2 separate regions of the Homo sapiens genome follow, and region 1 is linked to region 2. Evidence: fine-mapped expression QTL. A gene starts in region 2. The other region holds a variant in brackets. All regions are shown on one strand. Distances are from middle to middle.

What was found. PIP is the estimated chance that this variant, and not a neighbour inherited with it, causes the effect. A credible set is the group of variants that fine-mapping cannot tell apart.
Region 1: its variant is the best candidate, but not a certain one, in a credible set for the expression of HIF3A in caudate (GTEx, PIP 0.53).

What each region holds. Positions count from the first base shown.
Region 1 is chr19:46,321,148-46,324,053 of GRCh38, reverse strand. It overlaps HIF3A (hypoxia inducible factor 3 subunit alpha), which reads right to left. Exons shown (of 15, transcript NM_152795.4): 10 at 2,088-2,278. Among named protein-coding and RNA genes, the nearest start is that of PPP5C, 24 kb to the left of the region's middle. The variant G/A (reference allele first, on the strand shown) is at 1,597.
Region 2 is chr19:46,295,491-46,298,396 of GRCh38, reverse strand. It overlaps HIF3A (hypoxia inducible factor 3 subunit alpha), which reads right to left and starts at 1,355. Exons shown (of 15, transcript NM_152795.4): 1 at 1,295-1,355. The coding sequence starts at 1,320.

The DNA of each region.
Region 1 (2,906 bases), 26 kb before region 2:
CTTAGTCACAAGCTGGAGTGGGAGGAGGGTCATCTGTGCCAGTTCCAAACATCCCAGGTTAGGGGCCTGATAGGGTTTGGCTGCGTCCCCACCCAAATCTCATCTTGAACTATAGTCCCATAATTCCCACACACTGTGGGAGGGACCTGGTCAGCGATAATTGAATCATGGGGGTGGTCTCTCCCATACTGTCCTCGTGATAGTGAATAAGTCTCATGAGAGCTGATGGTTTTATAAGGGGAAACCCCTTTCGCTTGGTTTTCGTTCTCTCTTGCCTGCCGCCATGTAAGACATATCTTTCACCTTCCGCCATGATTGTGAGGCCTCCCCAGCCATGTGGAACCGTGAGTCCATTAAATCTTTTTTTCTTTATAAATTACCCAGACTTGGGTATGTCTTTAGCAGCAGCGTGAAGACAGACTAATACAGGGCCTGTGGTGTTATTTTATACACACATATATATATATGATTTTGTGCATGGTTCCTGGGTCAAACTCCCATGGCCGTTGTCTTTTGTTAGAACAGTCTTTTATTAGAACAGTCTAGTAAAACAGTTCTAACAGTCTTTTGTTAGAACACTGGGTGTGTTAGGCCTCAGGAAACAGAACCTCTCCAGCCTTCTTCTGCCCTCGTTTCACCTGCCCAAAGGCAGGTCTCTAATCTTCCCCTGCCTTTTTGATTGTGGGTCATAAGACTGTCCCCAGAGGCCGGGCGCGGTGGCTCATGCCTGTAATCCTAGCACTTTGGGAGGCCGAGGCGGGTGGATCATGAGGTCAGGAGTTCGAGACCAGCCTGACAAACATGGTGAAACCCCGTCTCTACTAAAAATAAAAAAATTAACTGGGCGTGGTAGTGTGCGCCTGTAATCTCAGCTACTTGGGAGGCTGAGGCAGGAGCATTGCTTGAATCCAGGAGGCGCAGGTTGTGGTGAGCTGAGATCATGCCATTGCACTCCAGCCTGGGCGATAAGAGCAAAACTCCGTCTCAAAAAAAAAACAACAAAAAAAAAACCACTGTCCCCAGAGAGGGTCCTGCCCGATACCCTGGGGGAAGGAATGCTGATGTCATGAAGCTTCCATAAAAACCCAAGAGGACTGGGTTGGAGGGGCTTCCAGATAGCTGACCCATGGAGGTTTCTGGAGGGTGGTGCCCGGGACGGCATGGAAGCTCCGAAACCCTACATTCCTCCATACCTCACTCAATGTATCCCTTCATCCGTATCCGTGCAATATCCTTGACAATGAACCAGTAAACCTAAATAAGTGTTGTCCTGATTACTGTGAGCCGCTCCAGCAAATTAATCAAACCCAAAGAGCCAGGTACGGTGGCTCACACCTGTAATCCCAGCACTCTGGGAGGCCGAGGCCGGAAGATCACTTGATGTCAGGAGCTCGAGACCAGCCTGGCCAACATGGTGAAACCCTGCCTCTACTAAAAATACAAAAAATTAACCAGGTGTGGTGGCATGCACCTGTAATCTCAGCTACTTGGGAGGCTGAGGCAAGAGAATTGCTTGAACCTCGGAGGTGGAGGTTGCAGTGAGCCGAGATTGCGCCACTGCATTCCAGCCTGGGTGACAGAGTGAGACTCCATCTC[G/A]AAAATAAAAATAAAAATAAAAAAGAAATTCTGGAGGCCCAGACTTGTGACTGGTGTCTGAAGAGCAAAGAGCAGTCTTGGGGACTGAGGCCCAACCTGTGAAATCTGACACTATCTCCAGGTAGATGATGCCGGAATTGAATTGGAGGACACCCAGCTGGTGTCCGCTGCTTGGTGTGTGGGAAAAACTGCCCACATTTGGTCACAGAAGTCTTCTTCTGTGTTGACGATTGTTGCATTATTAGGAGAGCAGAGGAAAAACATAGCTTGAGAGAGTTTTTCCCTAAACAGAGCCAGACTCTGGAATTCTAACAATTGAAAAATCTGGATCTGCGTCTTAAAGGAACCTCAACCCCATCTCATCCCAACCTCCCCACTACACAGATGGAGAAGCTGAGGCCCAGAGAACAGTCAGGTTTAAGTCACAGGCCAAGACCCCCTGAGGGACTGAGCACTGGATGCTGAGGGCTCACATGGGTGGGATGGCTTACCGAAAGAGGACTTTGGGGGTGCCGTGTGGCCAGCGGGGTGCTGGGAGTGGCTGCTACTGAAGCCCCATCCAGGATGGGTCCCAGGAGGCGACGGAGGTCAGGGCTGCAGAAACGGCGGGGGTCAGCGGCCAGGGCAGCCTCGCTCAGGGAAGGCGGGTGCAGGAAGGCAAGGATCCGGGGGCCAGGGGTGTCTGCAGGACACATGGAGATGGGGAGGACACGGGCTGGTGACTGAGGGCCAAGGGCCAGAGCCCTCCATACCAACCCCAGGAACACAGTTGACATCTTCAGCAGGTCAGGATGGCCACTGTTCTTAGTGAGAGGGTAAGGAAGGGGCCTGGAGGACCCCTGCTGGGCCAGGTGTGAACTTTATTTTTATTTTTGAGATGGAGTCTAGCTCTGTTGCCCAGAATGGAGTGCAGTGGCACTATCTCAGTTCACTGCAGCCTCTGCCTCCTGGGTTCGAGCAATTCTCCTGCCTCAGTCTCCAGAGTAGCTGGGATTACAGGTGCCCGCCATCACACCCAGCTAAGTTTTGTATTTTTTATAGAGACAGGGTTTCACCATGTTGGCCAGGCTGATCTCAAACTCCTGACCTCAAGTGATCCGCCCACCTCGGCCTCCCAAAGTGCTGGGATTGCAGGCATAAACCACTGCTCCCAGCCCAGGTGTGAACTTCAGTGGCCAGATTGTGGTGAGGCTCTGAAAGGTCCGAGGGGAAGGGATTGGTGGCTCAGAACAGCATTTGGCCATTCAGCTCTGGGGAGCTTTCACCTTAGGAGAAAAGACTGGCCCCAAGCCCTCAAGGAGGCTGTAAGG
Region 2 (2,906 bases):
AGGAAAGGGCCGGCCTTGGGTGGGGAGGGGGGGCACCCGAGCTCAGCCAAGAGGGGCCCCCACCCAGCCAGGAGGGGGCGCTGAGAGGGGCGGAACGACAGCTGGCCCAAAAGGGGTGGGATAGAGTTCCTTGTTAGGCCCAGAGCCAGGGCCTGGAATAGAGTAGGGGACAGGGGAGAGGATGGGGGCGGTTAGAAACATGGGGTGTGCATGGATCCAATCAGGCCTGAGAAGCCAGGGAGGAGGGAAGGGGGTGAGGCTTACTGGGTGCCTCACATTGGACAGGGAAAGCTGAGGACCTAGAACATTTTCCAGGGTCCCATGGGAACATGGCCAGATAAAACCCCCCGGCAGCGGCCCCAGGGCACAGGTTCCCCTGTGTTCCAGCAGAGCTGCACCTGCTGGGCAAGTGAACCCAGAAACCCACCCTCTGCCCGGGATGACCCCATCTGAGTACTGCGGCAGGGGGCGTTCCCATCACAGCCTGCAGGCTCACAGCACCCTGCCATGGAGTCTCCCCAAAATAAAGCTTGGATGAGGCTCCCCTGTCTCTCAGGATGGGGGTGCAGGGGTGAGATGAGGGGCTGGACTTTGGGAAGTGGGTCCAGCTTGTTTCCCTGTTATTTAAGGGGGTGACTCTGGCTTTTGAAAGGATACAAAAAGTCTCTTGGGAAGGGTCCCAGACGGCTTCTGAAAGGGGCTCCCCTCTGCCCATTTCTAGGGAAACCCAATGTTTAGGAGACTGTGTCAGGAAGCATACTATTAGAGGAGATCTCTCCTCTCTTGAACTCAGGAGCTGAATGCCATTCCAAGGGACTCCCTATATGTGGGAAGGCTCCATTTAGGGGTATCCCATATCACCTAGGATCCCAGGCACCTGGTGGCAAAGAATACCCTCAATTTTGGGGGGTTCAGAGGCCAGAGGGATCAATATGTGGAGGGCGAATATCTCCCGCAGAAGCCTGGGGACTGCTCAAATGCAATCACCCCTAATTTATCAGGAATCCCAAGTTCCACCCCCAACCAGGAGGGTAAATGAGCCTTGGGTAGCGAGAAATCGGGAACCCCGAAGCCGCTCTTGGCCAGAGGGGCGGGGCAGCCAGAGACGTAGGGAATCCCCCACCCCTGCAGTCCCTAAGGGTGGAGAGTGCGGTGGGGATGTGCCTCCAACTGCGCGCCCCGGGGCGTTCTTGGCTCGCACCCGCGAACCCCACCCCCCCCAACAATCCAGCTCAGGGGTCTCCAGGAGGAGAGCCCCCCAATTCCCAGAACTCCTGCCCCCGAACTTCAGTACCTTGCGCGCTGCAGCCCCAGCGCCATGGCTCGCCAGTCGCCGCTCCGGAGCCCTCGGAGGCCCCTAGCCCCCTCCCCGGCCTTGCGAGCCCCCTCCCCAGCTCCTCCCCACGCCGCGCGGTTGGCTGTGCCACGCCAGGCCTGAGGCTCTGATTGGGCAACGGTATGTCACTCCTGAAAAGGAGGCGGAACCAGAGGGAAAGACTTGGAAAGGCAAGGGGGGGATACCGTGTAATACACACCCCCCAACCACGCCCCTCGCCGCGGACTTCCTCGGCAGTGTATCCCGCACCGTCGGCTGAACGCGCCTTCTCTAGTCCAGCCTCTGAAGTGCCAACGCCAGTACTCTTCTGAACCCACTCAGTTCACTCTGCTCTCTGGACCCCAGTCCCCAGCCTCTAACCCCCACCTCTTCTCACCTTTCCATTTCCTAACCCCAGTTGAGCCCCTCTGACCTCCAATCCCACCCCTTCCAAACCCCTAGCCCTGCCTTCTCTATCCCTTCTAAGGTATTCACAGAGTACCCCACATCTCCTCCCCACCCCCCAACTCCCAACCCCACCCCAGTTCCACAATCCTTGGCCCTCTGGCACCTACCCTTCTCTCTCTCTCCCCAGCCCCTCCCTGCCACCCCAGTCCCATACCCCACTTCGCCCCCATTCCTCCAGTCTGCACCCTCTGCACCCCAGCTTACCTTCCCTACCCCCTCTACTCCACCCTAACCTCTTGGCCTCTCTGACTCCCTTTTCAGGTTCCCATTGATGAATAATTAAGCTTATGTCAAGTAAATATGTTTTAACTCAATCACACCTACTTCAAAAAAGAGCCGAGAAATGTATTTTTTTTTAACTAGTCGACTATGAAGGGAGAAGTACAAAGGTACCAAGCAAGGGTGAAAGCATTACAGTTGGATAAGGAACAGAGTGTGTGTGTGTGTGTGTGTGTGTGTGTGTGTTGGACCACTATTCTGGATTTGGTTGGCAGGGAAGAGGATACTACAGCAGAAGTGGCCTTGTTGAACCTTGAACTTGCCAGGCAAGTTGCTCACCTTAGGGCCTTTGCACTTGCTGTTCCCACAGCTTAGCACACTCTTCCTCCAGGAATCCACACGGCTCCCCGGCTCACGCCAGTTCCCCACTCTGTTTTCTTTTGGGAAACCACTTCTCTGTCCTCTTCATCTATTTAATTTGAATAGGGCTTGGCCACTGCTCTGCCTTCACCAGCTCCAGGGATGGACATAGGATCCAAACCTGGCTAATCAGTTGAGTCTGCTTCCCTGGCCACAGTGATTGGTTCAGGGAAGGCATGTTACCTAATTTAGCCCAATGAGAATCAACCCTGAGACATTTGCTGAAACCATTAGGAAAGAGGATTTTCTATGTCTGCTGGAATTGCTGGGCAGATGGAGCAGATGGGGCTCACACTGCCACAAAGAGAGGAGAGGCTTTATGAGATGAGGTTCAGTGCAAAAGAGATTGTGCAGAAATGAACGATTGTGAAAGGCAGTTTTGACACCAGCACTTGAGTGCCTGGATCCAGCCATACCTGAACTCCAGTTTAATTCTTGGATTTTTCAAATGAAACCCACAATGGGCTTTTTTTTTTTTTTTTTT